Regions from separate parts of the Homo sapiens genome. Here region 2 is linked to region 1. Evidence: fine-mapped expression QTL. Tissue or cell type: coronary artery. Region 1 holds a variant in brackets; the other region holds the start of a gene. All regions are shown on one strand. Distances are between the middles of the regions.

Region 1 (8,180 bases):
AGACAGAGTTTCACTCTTTTTGCCCAGGCTGGAGTGCAATCGTGCGATCTCCGCTCACTGCAACCTCTGCCTCCTGGGTTCAAGCAATTCTTCTTCCTCAGACTCCTGAGTAGCTGAGATTACAGGTATGTGCCACCACACCTGGCTAATTTTGTATTTTTAATAGAGACGGGGTTTCTCCATGTTGGTCAGGCTGGTCTGGTCTCGAACTCCTGACTGCAGGTGATCCGCCGGCCTCGGCCTCCCAAAGTGCTGGGATTATAGGCGTGAGCCACCGCACCCAACCACCTCAGTTTTTTTTGTTAAGTACAGTACATTAGGTAAAAACGAAGGAAATCTGAATAAAGTAGGGAATTTAGTCATTACAAACAAAACAAAACTGCTTCTTAAGTGGTTCAGGGAGGTTGGTTCTCTGAAGGTGTCTCTAGGTTGACTCATCCTCTCTAAGGGAAAACAGAGGGCCAGGGAGGCCCTCACATCTACAGTGTGCCAGCCCTTGCCCGGTACCCTTACCCTTGCTTTTTGTTTTTTTTTGAGATGGAGTTTCACGTTGTCACTCAGGCTAGTGTGCAGTGCCATGATCTCGGCTGACTGCAACCTCTGCTTCCTGGGTTCAAGTGATTCTACTGCCTCAGCCTCCCAAGTAGCTTGGACTACAGGCATACACAGCCACGCCCGGCTAATTTTTGTATTTTTAGTAGAGACGGGGTTTCGCCATGTTGTGGCCAGGCTGGACTCGAACTCCTGACCTCAGGTGATCCGCCTGCCTCGGCCTCTCAAAGTGCTGAGATTACAGGCGTGAGCCACTGTGCCCTGCTCCCTCGCCCTCACTTTGCTCGCCAGCCAGCTGACTGCCTTTTCAACACACCCAGCACACACTTTCTTCAGTGCCTTGACACCTGCCATTCTCTCTAATTGGAAGCCTCAGGTGATCGAGAAACGCTGGATTCCACCCCAGCAGGTGGAACCGAGGTACAGTTCTGTGTGCTCTGTTATCCCCACCTTCCTTAGGCCACCAGAAAGGTCAAGGTGCTTGGTGGTTAGGACAAAGTTGACCGCACCTTGGGGCCACAGAGGCCGTTGAATATGACCAGGGAGGCTGACAGCCTGAGATGACAGCAGGGTGTGAGGGTATCTTGGAGGGCACAGTGCACACCCCTCTCCCACCCTGGGAGGGAGAGGACCCTATAAGTTAAGTGGGGTCTCGAAGCCAGTGGGAGGGTGAGGAGGTGGAATTCAGACCAGCTGGGGGCTCTGTCAAAAGGGCCTGCTTCTGGCTGCCTCAACAATGCAAACGGCAAGAACTTTTTTTTTTTGGTGGGGGGGGGGTCTTGCTTTGTCACCCAGGCTGGAGTGCAGTGGCGCAATCATGGCTCACTGTAGCCTCAACCTCCCTACTCAAGTGATCCTCCCCCTTCAGCCTCCTCAGCAGCTGGGACTACAGGTGTGTACCGCCGTGCTTGGCTAATTTCATTTGTTTTGTAGAGGTAGGGTCTCACTATGTTGCCCAGACTGGGATCCTGGGCTCCAGCCATCCGCCCGCCTTGGCGTCCCAAAGTATTGGGATTACAGGCTTGAGCTACTGTGCCCGGCCAAGAACCATTTTTAAATCTAATTAATTTTTTTTTTTTTGAGATGAAGTTTTGCTCTTCTTACCCAGGCTGGAGTGCAGTGGCGAGATCTCAGCTCACTGCAACCTCTGCCTCCCGGGTTAAAGCAATTCTCGTGCCTCAGCCTCCTGAGTAGCTGGGATTACAGGTGCCTGCCACCACACCCGGTTAATTTTTTTGTTTGTTTGTTTTGGTTTTTTTGAGACAGAGTCTCACTCTGTTGCCAGGCTGGAGTGCAGTGGTGTGACCTCGGCTCATTGCAACCTCTGCCTCCCGGGTTCAAGCAATTCTTCTGCCTCAGCCTCCCGAGTAGCTGGGACTACAGGTGTGTGCCACCAGGCCTGGCTAATTTTTGTATTTTTAGTAGAGACGGGGTTTCACCATGTTAGCCAGGATGGTCTCCATCTCTTGACTTCATGATCCGCCCGCCTCGGCCTCCCAAAGTGCTGGGATTACAGGTGTGAGCCACCACGCCCGGCCAATTTTTATATTTTTTAGTAGAGACGGGGTTTCACCATGTTTCCCAGGCTGGTGTCAAACTCCTGACTTCAGGTGGTCCACCCACCTCAGCCTCCCAAAGTGCTGGGATTACAGGCATAAGCCACTGCACCTGGCCCATTTTTTTAATTTTTAATTTTTTTTCCCAAGACAGTCTTGCTCTGTCACCCAGGCTGGAGTGCAGTGGCATGATCTCGGCTCACTGCAACCCCCACCTCCCAGGTTAAAGCAATTCTCCTGCCTCAGCCTCCCGAGTAGATGGGATTACTGGCGCTCACCACCATGCCCGCCTAATTTCTGTATTTTTAGTAGAGACTGGGTTTCACCGTGTTAGCCAGGCTGGTCTTGAACTCCTGACCTCGTGATCCGCCCGCCTCAGCCTCCCAAAGTGCTGGGATTACAGGTGTGAGCCACCACCCCCAGCCATTTTTTTAATGTTTAAGGAAAACTGCTGGGCAGTGAAGGTCTCCCCAGACAATGTCACTGAGCCCCGGCCTCCCCAACCTGGTCTGAGATTTCAGGGGGTTTCAGAAGAAGCTGACCTTTGAGAAGGCTCTGGGGCCAGGATGTCTGAGTTACTTGATGCTGGAGGGGTGGGGCAAGGAGGGTCTGGCCCTGGTGGTGCAGAGGAGGGGAGATGAGGGTGGGGAAGACACTTGAGGACGTGAGGAGTATTTTTAGGTGCTGAATGCAGCCCTGAAATATTTCCACGGCCACTCCCGAGAGCGAGCTGGGTGACTATTTCGGTGCCTGGTTCCAGTGGAGGCGGGGCAGGGGTGAGTCACTCACTGCCCAGTGGCCGCAGAGGCCAGGCCCAGGCTGGGAGGCGGCTCGAAGGGCAGGATCGCAGGCCTGCAAGGTGAACGGTCACTGGCCTGGGGCCAGGCTTCCTAAGCCAGCCTCCAGGGCACAGAGGACAGCGGCCTTTCTATTCCCCATGGCACTGGCCAATCCAGAGGGGCCACTGCCTGGGTGCCCTGGGACAATGAGCTGCTCACGCCAACCCCATAGTTGTAAAGATGGAGGGTCCCCCGTGAGGTTCTGGACACCCCACAGGTGCTAGGCGAGATGCCATCTTAGATTATTTCAAGCATTTATTGAGCACTTGCTGTATACCAGGCCAGTCCTAAAATGATTACTGGCATCCTCCCTTCATGCAATCTGCCCAATAACCCCCATGAGGTAGAGCTGCTGTTATCCCCCCGACCAGGGAGGAAACTGAGGCACGGTAGGGTTAAGCCCTCCAGGCACCTAACTATGTGCCTCAAATCCTGTCCCTCAGCTGATGTTACAATCAGGGGAGTGAGTTTTAAAGCAGCAGCCGATCTTGCTTACCCCCCACACCCTATTCCCAACCAATTTTGGGGTCCTGACTGTGCCTGAGCTGGGAGAAGGTCAATGGATCCTTCAGGTTTAAGGAGGCAGTGGAAAGAGGAGGTCACCATTGCTGTGTGACCTGGGGCAGGTTCCTCACCCTCTCTGTGCCTGAGCAGTGAATGACGATGCCACCCTATGGGTGAGTTCCGGAGCTGCCTGGCACACATTCATGATAGATAAACAATGGTTGGCTGAGCATACTGGCTCAGGCCTGTAATCCCAGCACTTTGGGAGGCTAAGGTGGGAGGATCGTTTGAGCCTAGGAGTTTGAGACCAGCCTGGACAACATGGTGAGACCCCTATCTGTAAAAAAAATAAAAAACAATTATCGGCTGTTGCTTGGATTGTGTGCCTGTCCTGAGCCTTCATTTCTCCATCTGTGAGGACCCTCGGAGGTGCTGGGTTGGAAGTGGCTTTGGAAACCCACGGGGCTGAGCGGCAAGGCTGAGTGGGAGCTCGGGGAATCCTCGCCCTCACTCGAAGTCTCCTTGAGAAGAGGCTGATGCTTGGCCGGGCGAGATGGCTTACGCCTGTAATCCCAGCACTTTGGGAGGCCGAGGCGGGC[G/A]GATTGCCCGAGGTCAGGAGTTCGAGACCAGCCTAGCCAACATGGCGAAATCCTGTCTCTACTAAAAAATGCAAAAATTAGCTGGGCGTGGTGGCGGACGCCTGTAATCCCAGCTATTCGGGAGGCTGAGGCAGGAGAATTGCTTGAACCTGAGAGACAGAGGTTTCAGTAAGTGGAGATCGCGCCACTGCCCTCCGGCCAGGGCGACAGAGTGAGACTTTGTCTCAAAAAAAAAAAAAAAAAAAAGAAGTGGCTGATGCCAAGCGTCAGGAACAGATCCCTGCAAGTGCCCACCCCAGCTCCTGTAGGGGCTTCTTTTTTATTTTATTTTATTTTATTTTTTCTTTTGAGACGGAGTCTTGCTCTGTCGCCCAGGCTGGAGTGCAGTGGCGTGATCTCCGATCACTGCAAGCTCCGCCTCCCTGGTTCGCGGCATTCTCCTGCCTCAGCCTCCCAAGTAGCTGGGACCACAGGCGCCCACCCGCCTTGCCTTCCCAAAGTGCTGGGATTACAGGCATGAGCCACCGCGCCCGGCCCTGTAGGGGCTTCTGGCCTGAGCCCTGACCCCCTCTGCCCCTTCCCCACAGAAGTTCAGAGGCTCCGTGCTTGCAGTTCCTCCACCTGTTCCGGCTCTCTCTGTGTGGCCAGCAGCTTCTTGTCCACTCGAGACTTGGTTTGACTGGACCTCCTCTTAAATTTTTAAAAAATTTTTAATTTATTATTAGTAGTATCATTTTTTTGAGACAGACTCTCGTTCTGTCGCCCAGGCTGGAGTGCAGTGGCGCTATCTTGGCTCACTGCAACCTCTGCCTCCTGGGTTTAAGCAATTCTCCTGCCTCAGCCTCCTGAGTAGCTGGGATTACAGGCACCACGTGCCACCACACCTGGCTAATTTTTGTATTCTTAGTAGAAATAAGGTTTCACCTCGTTGGCCAGGCTGGTCTCAAACTCCTGGCCTCAGGTGATCCGCCTGCCTCGACCTCCCAAAGTGTTGGAATTACAGTTGCCGCTGTGAGCCACAGCACCCAGCCGGCCTCCTCTTGCTCTGTGGAAAGGAGGTGCCACCTCGGGGTCCTGCACTTCCTGGGCAAGGCCAGCTGGTCAGCCTAGGCCCTGGCAGCCTCCTCCTCCCTGCCCTGAGGCCCCAGCACTGCCCCCTTCCTGCTTCCACCCCTGCTTCTGACTGTTCCAGAACCCTCTGTGGCTGCTTCTCATGTCACTCAGGGCCCACATCCTCCCCATTTCCTGCCCTTCTGTTTGCTCCTGTGTCCCCTGGGCACAGGGCCTTTGCACGGGACTGTCCTCCTGACCCCTGCTGGTCCAGAATGTTCTTTCCCAAGGTGGCTGGCTCCCTCGTCTCTCAGGCCCTTCCTGAATCTTCAGTGTCCTTCTCTCACCTTCCCTGACCACCTCTTCATTCACCTCCTCACGAGCCCGCCCTGTTTCTGGTTTCTTTTTCTTTTTTTTGAGAGTCTCGATCTGTCGCCCAGGCTGGAGTGCAGTGGCGCGATCTCAGCTCACTGCAACCTCCGCCTCCCAGGTTCAAGCGATTCTCCTGCCTCAGCCTTCTGAGTAGCTGGGATTACAGGTTTGTGCCATCACGTCCGGCTAATTTTTGTATTTTTAATAGAGATGGGGTTTCACCATGATGGCCAGGTTTTGAACTCCTTATCTCAGGTGATCCGCCCACTTCGGCCTCCCAAAGTGCTGGGGTTACAGGCATGAGCCACTGCGCCTGGCCTGGTTTCTTCTTTTTACAGCATTTATGCATTTGATATGCATATGCTTGTGGCTGGCTCACTCCTGTGGAAGGGAAGGATTGCCGGGGCTGTGTCACCAGCACCTGGGACAAGGCAAGTGGCCCTAGTGCCAGGCTCGTGCCAGGCCCTGGGCTCCAAAAGAAGAAGGTGGGGAGGGAGGTGACAGGGACACAGGCCATCTGGGGGTGGCTGTCAGAGTAGTGCTGGGAACAGCAGGTGAAGCCCAGAGGAGGAGAGGAGGAGGAGAGAGAGGAGGGGGATGGGGGATGGGAGTGGGGGATGAGTGGAGGAGGATGGAGGAGGAGGGGAATGGGGAGGAAGATGGGGAGTGAGAGGAGGGGGATGGGGGAGGAGAAGGAGAAGGAGGAGGAGGAGGAGGAGAGAGGGATGGCTTCCCACAGCTGCCTCTCGGGGGCCACTGCCCAAGGCCAGCCTCTGCACTTTTGTCCCTGAAGCGGGTGTTTGGCTCCAGGATGAGGTGGCGTCAGCAGCCGACCCGGGCCTGTCGCACTCTGGCGGGGGACTGTGGGCTGGCCCTGCAGAGCTCAGCCCCCGGCTGAGTCACAGCACAGCGCCAGGCGTGGGCCTCCCTAACAGAAAGCAAACTCCAGGCGAGAAGGTCTGGGGGCGGGTGGGGACCATCTACGATAAAGGCAGCCCCAGTTGGGTGAGGAGGGCACAGACCATCGGAGGGACAGAAAGACCTGGAAGCCTTGGATTTAGGAACTAGACTGGTGCTTTTGGTTTCTTTTCTTGTTGAGGGGGCTGAGGATGAGGCTTTGTGAAACCAACCAGGAAGAATGAAACACAGAGCTGGTCCGACACCCAGCTCGAGGGAGGGGGGCCGGAAGCTTCTGGAAGTTGGCTGCCCCTAAGCAGGGGCCACTCTAGCCCACAAGGCCAAGTTGGCAGAGGCAGACGAGGGGACTCTGCGGCTCAAGTCACGGGCCAGGAGCCCGCAGCTGCCGGGCTGGAAAGGTCAGAGCCGGCTCTGCGTCTGGCTGCGCCGGCAAGAAGCCACAATTACGCAGGCAAAAGAGCCCGGGGATTAGCCCCAGCACCTGGGACCCTGAATGGTGAGAAGGCACCTAGGGGGTGTTGGAACACATTCTGAGTTCAGAGCCTGGTCAGGGAGAAAAAACCAAACGGAGATCAGGAAGGGGAAGGGGCCTTCGAGGGCTTTCCCATCCCAACTTCCCAGGATGCCTGACCCCAGAGCTCCTGGATTTGATCCACGCCTCGTGACACACACAACCCCTGGGAGGAAGGAGCCCAGGCCCCTTGGAGAGCCCCAGAGGCCTCTAAGGGCCGGTGAGTCTAGGACATGGGGCAGGAGCTGCAAATGGGGCCTCCCTGCTCCCCACCCTTCCTTCCCTCCTCCTCTAAACATTGCCCCACCCACCTCGCCCTGTGAGCCCAGCCCCCTGCACGGCCCACACTGTAGGGGCATGGGGTGTGCCAAGAGATGCTCCTGTCGACCAGGCGCAGTGGCTCATGCCTGTAATCCCAGCACTTTGGGAGGCCAAGGCGGGAGGATCACTTGAGATCAGGAGTTCAAGACCAGCCTCGCCAACATGGTGGAACTGTGTCTGTACTAAAAATACAAAAATTAGCCGTCTGTGTTGGTGCACACCTGTAATCCCAGCTACTCAGGAGGCTAAGGCAAGAGAATCGCTTGAACACACGAGGCAGAGGTTGCAGTGAGCCAAGATTGTGCCACTGCACTCCAGCCTGGGCAACAGAGCGAGACTCCGTCTCAAAAAAAAAAAAAAAATGCTCTTGTCCAACAGGCAGGTGGGTGCCGTGGGCCGGTGCATCCCAAGGCTTCCAGGCCCGGGCCCCCAACTGCTGCCCCTGCCTGTGTTGAGGGGGCGGGTTTGTGAGGTTCAGGGCAGGCCACATCCTGGACCCCACATGCCCCATCTCTAACCATCAATCAAGTGCCGCTGTGGCGGAGAGGATTCAGGCGACTGCAGATATCCATCCCTGTCCCCCACCCCACACACAAGGAGAACATCCCAGGCGAGGACATTGTAAATGCAAAATCTATACGATGGCAAGTAACTCTGAAGACTCAAGAAAAAGAGTTCCTCACGGACGGGACCTTTTATTCCAATCACCTCTCAAAATAGGTCTCCGAACGAGGACCCTGAAGAGAAGGCTATGCAGGGGGACGGGCCGCTGCCTGGCTCAGGGCTTCCCTCTGGTTTCTTCACGGTCCACAGATGCTACCCGGAGCCTTTCTCGAAAGCGCTGACTCAGTGTCTCAGGTGCGCGCCCGAGGAGTGGCAAACCCGGCCTGGCTCAGAAAGGGGGCAGGAGCCTCGTGAGAATCTTCCATGAGCATCTTCCGAGGGGATTCCTGTCCTG
Region 2 (8,147 bases), 21 kb after region 1:
CTGTTTCAAAAAAAAACAAAAAACAAAAAAACAAAACAAAAGAAAGACTGGCTAGGCGCCGTGGCTCATGCCTGTAATCCCAGCACTTTGGGAGGCCAAGGTGGGCGGATCACGAGGTCAGGAGTTCGAGACCAGCCTGGCCAATATGGTGAAACCCCATCTCTACTAAAAATACAAAAATTAGCCAAGCATGGTGGCGCACACCTGTAGTCCCAGCTACTTGGGAGGCTGAGGCAGAAGAATCGCTTGAACCCAGGAGGCAGAGGCTGCAGTGAGCTGAGATTGTGCCACTGCACTCCAGCCTGGGTGACAGTGACACTTCATCTCAAAAACAACAACAACAACAACAAAAAACCCAAATAGGGTTGGTGCAGACCCACTCTCACAACACTCCTCAGGCCCGCTATAGAGTCAAGGCAGACAGGCTCTGCCACACTGGCCGCCACACCCATTCCTGCCACCTGACCTTTGCTTCTGCTATTGCCTCTGCCTGGGGTGACCTTCCCCAGGCTGCTGAAACGTCACCTCCTTTGGCCAGGCCCTTTTAATGGCCACCCTCTGCCTCATGGGTGTTTGTTTCCATCATAGGATGCAGCCAGTCTTTAATTACCTTGTTTATTACCTGTGTCCCTCGCTAGACTGGAACACTCAAAGTGGGTGTGGACTTTGTCCAGGGCCAAGCACAAGGCCAGGCACATGAGAGGGACTCGGTAAATATTTGCTGAATAAATACACAAGAAAAATGCACACACTACCCAGGGAGGCATGCAGGGAAGGCAGAACACTCGCCCCACCCCACAGGTAAGGGAAGGAGTGGCTGCGGGACAGGGAGCTGCCTGACTCCCAGGCCCTCCCAGGCTGCAATGGCCTGGGCCTGTGACCATATATCTTGATTTCTCCTACATCCTCATCTCCAAACTCTGTTGGAGAGAGGTCAGAGGAAGGGGTGGATCCTCAAAATCTTAAAAGAAGATACATCAAAGTGCCAGGTGAGGCTGGGCACAGTGGCTTGTGCCTGCAATCACAGCACTTTGGGAGACTGAGGTGGGAGGATCGCTTGAGCCCAGGAGTATGAGACCAGCTTGGGCAACACAAAAGATTCTGTCTCTACAAAAAATCTAGAAATTAGCCAGGTTTAGTGATGCATGCCTGTGGTCCCAGCTACTTGGGAGGCTGAGGTCAGGTGGGAGGATCACGGGCCAGTGAGGTTGAGGCTGTAGTGATTGTGCCACTGCACTCCAGCCTGGATGAGAGTGAGATCTCAGCTCTGAAAAACAAAAAAAGTCTAGAGTGCAGTGGCTCACGCCTGTAATCCCAGCACTTTGAGAGGCCGAGGTGGGTGGATCACCTGAGCTCAGGGGTTCAAGACTAGCCTGGCCAACATAGTGAAACCTGATCTCTACTGAAAATACAAAAATTATCCAGGTGTGGTGGTGCGTGCCTGTAATCACAGCTACTTGGGAGGCTGAGGTAGGAGAATCACTCTCGGAGAGGTGGAGGTTGCAGTGAGCTGAGATTACACCACTGCACTTCAGCCTGGGCGACAGAACAAGACTCTGTCTCAAAAAAATAAATAAAATGAAATAGAAAAAGAAAAAAAGTGCCAAGTGTGATAGGAGAGGCCCCACCCTGGTTTATGGAAGGTCACAAGAAAATTCAGAAAAGAGAATTCCTTTCTCTGGGCTTTCTTGGAGCATCTGGAATCTGGTTCTCAGGTCTAGATCCACGAGGACCTAAACCCAGTGCCTCCTAATTCAGGAAGCTGTCCAGGACTGCCCATCCCCGCTGCTAACCTAGGCCACTCCTTCTGGCCCTGCCCTGACGACAGGGAACTGGAAGTGTGTATCCTGTGATGGCTTGTCCATTCTCGGCTACTCCTCCAGGAAACAGCTGGACAGCCAGGACTCTGGATGTTCAGAAGGTGGGAAGGGGCTGAATGAATGAGTTCACACTTTGCCCACGCACCGTTCTACATACTGGGAATCTAGTCGGAAGAAAAACGAAGATCCTGCTCCCACAAAACTTAACACAGGGATGGATCCTTCCAGCTCTGCCCAGTCTTACATGCCAACTCTGCCCTCTAAGTACACCGCAGAGAGGGACAGGCTCTCTGAATCCTTGCACTTGAAATCGCCTTTGCAAAAATTGTAGCGGGAAATTATGACAGTGAAAAGAGATCAGACCTAACCGACTCCATTGTGCTTCTAACCTTTACGCCATCTTTGCTTATTCCTAGGTATAGGCCAAACTAACCTTGGGAAGGGATTTAGTTTATAGTTTGACTCTGGAACAAAATTGGTAATAGCCCTTTCCCGAAAAGACCCTCTTCTTGCCTGGGGACCAGTCTGCCTTTGTAGGACTAACAAATAAGCTACAAGATTAGAAATTACCATTTAGGTAACTTCAGCCTCTGGCTGCAAGAGTCTGAAACTCCCCAAATTGCTCCTTGGGATAACATCACTATTATAAAATCTAAGATCAGTGCTTGAGATATTTTGCAGACCCCGTACTTGACGGATCAGCTGACACTACCCAGACCAGTAATCTGGCTCAACCAGTCCTGCGATCCCACCCAGGAACAGAAGACAGCAAGAAAACCTCACTTCAACACTCCCGTCGATGACTCCATCGACCTCAGGAAGCTCCAACCAATCAGCACTCCCCACTTCCTGAGCCCCTACCCGCCAAATTATCTTTCAAAACTCGGATCCCCTAATGCTCAGCGGAGACTGATTTGAGCAATAATAAAACTCTGGTCTCCTGCATAGCTGGCTCTGTGTGAAATACTCTTTCTCCACTGCAATTCCCCTGTCTTGATAAATCTGTCTAGGAAGACAGGCAAGGTGAACCCATTGGGTGGTTACACACTGACCAGCCGGATTTAGGGAGAGTTCTCACTAATCCACAGTTCTGATGCAGCCACCCCTGGGGGACCCTCCTGGTTACTGAATCTCCCACTGTCTCACAGAGTCTGGAAGTCACATCCCCAACAAGGGCCTTGGTTTCTCTCATTGAAAAAAGAAGGACCAGAAGCTGATGGGCCAGGAAACTCCCAGCTCTGAATTCCTTTTCCGATCTGCACAGTGGGGGACACGGGCACTTTCTAGCCCAGATCCAGAACTTCCAGAATCATAAACAATGGGCCCTGCAGAGACCTGGGCCGCAATTTTTCCTTCTTTGTATTGGGAGGATGTACTTTGTCCACCCCTAGCTCAAAACGCCCCCTTCCGCTGGAATGACATGCTATGTGACCCAAGGAGAAACACCACACCCCAGCACCAGGCCTGCTTTTCAGCCAGAAACCAAGAGGCCTAGGAGGCTGTGCTGCTAGCATCTTGCAAGCTCTGAAATTCCTAAAACTAAGTTTCACAACTCAGACTGGCCCCCTACTTCCCAGCACTCTAGTTTTCAATCAGGGAGGTCAGACTGGGCCCGAAGCGTAAGGGACCCCTTCCCTGCCCAAAAACTCTCTGCTGCATTTGGCGGATCCCCACCTTTTTTTTTTTTACTTCAGTTTCCCCACCTGCAAACTGGGAAAACTAACTAAGGCGAGGCCACTGTACTGTGGATACAAGTCCGTGCAACCCTAAATCCCAGACACGAACGTGATAGAGCCACCTGCAGTCTCCGGCCTCAGTTTCCCAGCCTCGTGCCGGGGGGCGGGACTCGAGGCTCGGACCTTACGTTCGCCCCGCGCCAACCAAGCCCACAGCGCCCGCCCGCAGGGATCCCAACGACTGCTGTTCCCGCCTCCCGGTGAGACCCCGCAGTTGCCCTGCCCTCACCATGGTGCCGGCGGGGACCGGGCTCGCCGGCCACTTCCGCCGCCGCCGCTGCACACGCTCCCGGCGGTCGTCGCCGCGCCGCGCGCCACTAAGCTGAAAGAAAGTGGCAGAGACGCAAGCCAGTCAGCACCGGGCTCGAAGGGCGGTCAACCAATCCACGCGGAGTAGGGCGGGGCCCGCTGGGCGAAAGGGCGGGGCGGGCCGTGTTCCCGCCGGAGGAACGAGGACGAGAGCCGTAAAGTGCCGCGGCTTGTAATGCAAAAGGAGGCGGAGCAACGCGCGCCGGCGCGGGGTGCATTGTGAGGAAATGCGTGCGCAGGTGAAACCTTCGTCGGTCTCCTGGGCTCCACGCTGTGGGCAAAGCCAGTTAATGCCTTTCGTTTGCAGTAGAGAGAGAGAAATCGAGGCTTCGTGGTGATTGGGCCGTGCCTGATGTTGCCCTTCCGACTCCTAGTTTTCTGATTCTGTAATTATCCAGGGAACATCATTTAATAGGTTGGAATCCTGACCACGACCCTCGGGGCCTCAGTTTGCTCCCTGTAAATAGTAGTGTCTGCTCCAAAACGTTGCTTACTGTAAGGATGAAATGAATGAAACCATGTAAAAGCACTTAAAACAGCGTCTGGCACATATTAAGTACTTATTACCTACTCTGTGCCTGTTTCTGCTCACAGAATGAACAAAACACAAAATTCGTGGCCCTCAGGGAGACAGACAGTAAACAAAGTAAATAGGCGAATGCTATTAGTTTTCTGGGGCCTGCTGTAACAAATGCCCACACACTGCGAGGTTTAAAACAACAGAACGTGATTTTCTCACAATTCAAGAGATCAGAATAATGAAGTGAGGTTGTCAGCACAGTTGGCTCCCTCTGGAGGCTCTGAGGACAATCTGTGTGTCCTATGCCTCTCTCCTGGGTTCTGGTGGCTGCTGGGAATCCTTGGAGTTCTTGGCTTGTAGATGCAGCCTTCCGCGTTCTGCCTTTGTCGTCACTTGGCCTTCTCTGTGTGTCTCTGAGTCTCAAATGTATCTCTCCTTTTTTTTTTCTTTTTTTTTTTTGTAGTAGAGACAGGGTCTCCCTATGTTGTCCAGGCTGGTCTCGAACTCCTGGGGTCAAGCAATCCTCCCTCCTCTGCCTCCCAAAGTGCTGGGATTACAGGCGTGAGCCACCGAGCCCGGCCGCTCCTTTTTCTTGTAAAGGACACTCCTTTCTCTTATTAAGTCCACCATAAATTTCAGGATAATGTCATCTCAAGATCCTTAATTACATCTGCGAAGACCCTGTTCTTTTTTTTTTGAGATGGAGTCTCATTCTATCACCCAGGCTGCAGTGCAGTGGTGCGATCTCAGCTCACTGCAACCCCTCCCTCCTGGGTTCAAGGGATTCTTCTGCCTCAGCCACCCGAGTGGCTAGGATTACAGGCACATGCCACAATGCCCAGCTAATTTTTGTATTTTTAGCAGAGACGGGGTTTTGCCATGTTGGCCAGGAGGTGGCCTCGAACTCCTGACCTCAGGTGATCCTTCCACCTTGGCCTCCCAAAGTGCTGGGATTACAGGCATGAGTCACCACGCCCAGCCTCGTTTTTAAATGACTGATGCTATTTATTGACATTATTCATAATATCAAAAGACTGAAAAAAACCCAATGCGACCAAATAATAGAGTAATACAGCTATAAAAAGGAATGAAGACAATCTTCATATACTGACATTGAATGGTGTCTGGATATCTTAAGTGAAAAAAACCAAGGTAGAGAACAGTTTTTACAATATGTCCTCTTTTGTGTGCAAAAAGAGAAATACATGCATGTGTATGTGTATATATATTTGCATGTGTGTGTGTATATATATATATATATATATTTTTTTTTTTTAACCACACCAAGCACGTGAACCAAATTTGCTTATATTTTTAATAAGAAACATAAAGGCCAGGCTCAGTGGCTCATGCCTGTAATTGCAGCACTTTGGGAGGCCGCGGTGGGCAGATCACCTGAGGTCAGGAGTTTGAGACCAGCCTGGCCAATATGGTGAAACCCCATCTCTACTAAAAATACAAAAAAATTATCTGGGCATGGTGGCGGGCACCTGTAATCCCAGCTACTCTGGGGGCTGAGGCAGGAGAATTGCTTGACCCCGGGAGGTAGAGGTTGCAGTGAGCCGAGAACGTGCCACTGCACTGCAGCCTGGGCGACAGAGTGAGACTCTGTCTCAAAAAAAAAAAAAAAAAGAAACGTAAAAAGTACGAACCAGGCCAGGAGCGGTGGCCCATGCCTGTAATCCCAGCACTCTGAGAGGCTGAGGTGGCTGGACCACTTGAGCCCAGGAGTTCCAGACCAGCCTGGGAAATACAGCAGCAAAACCCTGAATCTACAAAAAATGCAAACAAGTAGCCAAGTGTGGTGACTGTGCATGAAGTCTCAGCTACTCAGGAGGCTGAGCAGGGAGAACTGCTTGAGCCTAGGAGGCAGAGGTTGCAGTAAGCTGTGATCCTGCCTCTGCACTCCAGCCTGGGTGACAGAGCAACACACTGTCTCAAAACAAACAAACAAAAGAAGCATGAACCAAAATATAGGCCAGGCACGGTGTCTCACACTTTAATCCCAGCATTTTGGGAGGCTGAGGCAGGTGGATCACCTGAGGTCATGAGTTCGAGACCAGCCTGGCCAACATGGTAAAACCCCATCTCTATAAAAATACAAAAATTATCTGGGCGTGGTGGCGCGTGCCTGTAGTCCCAGCTACTCAGAAGGCTGAGGCAGGAGAATCACTTGAACCCGGTTAGGAGGAGGTTACAGTGCATGCCATTGCACTCCAGCCTGGGTGACAGAGCAAGACTCCATCTCAAAAAAAAAAAAAAAAAAAAAAAAGTAACCTGGGAGAATAAGGGAACAAGATGAAATCATAAGAATGAAAGCCAGACTTCTTTCAGTGTACCTTATTGTCTAGTTTCAACTTTGGAAGCATAATTAAAAATAAAAGTCAAAAGGAAAAATCAAAAGAAATCCCTAAAAATGGAAACAAACAAATGAACCTCACTGTATATCAAGTTGCAAAGACCCTATTTCAATTACAGTCACATTCACAGCTACCAGCAGGTTAGGATTTGGATATACGTGTGTGTGTGTGTGTGTAAATTTTTTTACGACTGCGTCCCTCTTGCCCAGGTTGGAGTATAGTGGTGCCATATGGCTTATTGCATCCGCAACTTCCTGGGGTCAAGTGATCCTCCCATCTCAGCCTCTGAGTAGCTGAGACTGCACACAGGTGTCACCGCCACGCCCAGCTTATTTATTAATTTAATTTATTTATTTATTCATTTTGTAGAGATGGGGGTCTGCTTGTTGCCCTGCCCTCACCGTGCTAGCCTCCAACTCCTGGGCTCAAGAGATCCTCCCACCTTGGCCTCCCAAAGTGCCAGGATTATAGGCATGAGCCACCATGCCCAGCTGGGATATATATTTTTAGGGGCTACTACTCATTACATCAAGTATCAGCTGTGGTAGCTTTAAACATAGGCATTTATTTGAGTAGTTTACTTCTCCACAGTGACATGCCTATAGTTTTTTTTTTTTTTTTTTTTTGAAACAGAGTCTCATTCTGTCACTCAGGCTGGAGTACAGTGGCGCGATCTCGGCTCACTGCAACCTCCACCTCCTGGGTTCAAGCGATTCTCCTGCCTCAGCCTCCCAAGTAGCTGGGATTACAGGTGTGCACCACCACACACAGCTAATTTTTGTATTTTTAGTAGAGACGGGGTTTCACCATGTTGGCCAGGCTGGTCTCAAACTCCTGACCTCGGGTGATCCACCTGCCTCGGCCTCCCAAAGCGCTGGGATTGCAGGAGTGAACCACTGTGCCCGGCCAATGACATGCCTATAGTTACATACACTTGCAAGCAGGACTATAACCTGAATTCCTAGAAGAGGCTTATCTAGGTGCCAATCAAAGGTTCCATCCCCTGGCCACATGCCTTGACTTTCAGGCCTACAAATGAGCAATAGGGGACCTCATAAAGTGACTCCTTGTATCCCAGCCTCCTGAGTCTCAGCACTGCCCTGAGAGCCTTTTCTTACCAAGTCCAGGGTGAGGAACTTCTGGCTGAAAGGACCCTATGCCTCTCAGAGCTGAACTGGGGAACCCTTGTTCAACTTCTCAAAGATTTTCCTGCTGGGCATGGCGGAGCACGCCTGTAGTCCCAGCTACTCAGGAGGCCGAGGCAGGATGATCGTTTGAGCCCAGCAGTTCGAAATCCCAATTCCCTGATCCTTCTGACTGGCACCACATCCAGGTGGAGTGGACTCTGGAGGTCTGAGAAAGCCCAGGGAGCCTTATAAGAGGAAGCCAGGCCAGGCGCAGT

Evidence for each region. PIP is the estimated chance that this variant, and not a neighbour inherited with it, causes the effect.
Region 2: LSM4 starts here. The variant in region 1 is fine-mapped to the expression of LSM4 in coronary artery (GTEx, PIP above 0.99). The same link has a PIP of 0.9 or more in atrial appendage, blood mononuclear cells, left ventricle, uterus and whole blood.

Annotation. Positions count from the first base shown.
Region 1 is chr19:18,298,339-18,306,518 of GRCh38, forward strand. It overlaps LSM4 (LSM4 homolog, U6 small nuclear RNA and mRNA degradation associated), which reads right to left. Exons shown (of 5, transcript NM_012321.5): 5 at 7,898-8,180. Among named protein-coding and RNA genes, the nearest start is that of MIR3188, 20 kb to the left of the region's middle. RefSeq lists a cis regulatory region at 2,712-3,131 and enhancers at 6,361-6,740, 6,631-7,136. The variant G/A (reference allele first, on the strand shown) is at 4,051.
Region 2 is chr19:18,319,233-18,327,379 of GRCh38, forward strand. It overlaps LSM4 (LSM4 homolog, U6 small nuclear RNA and mRNA degradation associated), which reads right to left and starts at 3,844. Exons shown (of 5, transcript NM_012321.5): 1 at 3,786-3,844. The coding sequence starts at 3,788. LOC105372300 (a long non-coding RNA gene) reads left to right here. Exons shown (of 2, transcript XR_007067157.1): 2 at 2,502-2,765. RefSeq lists enhancers at 1-128, 3,965-4,184, 4,383-4,985 and a silencer at 3,725-3,904.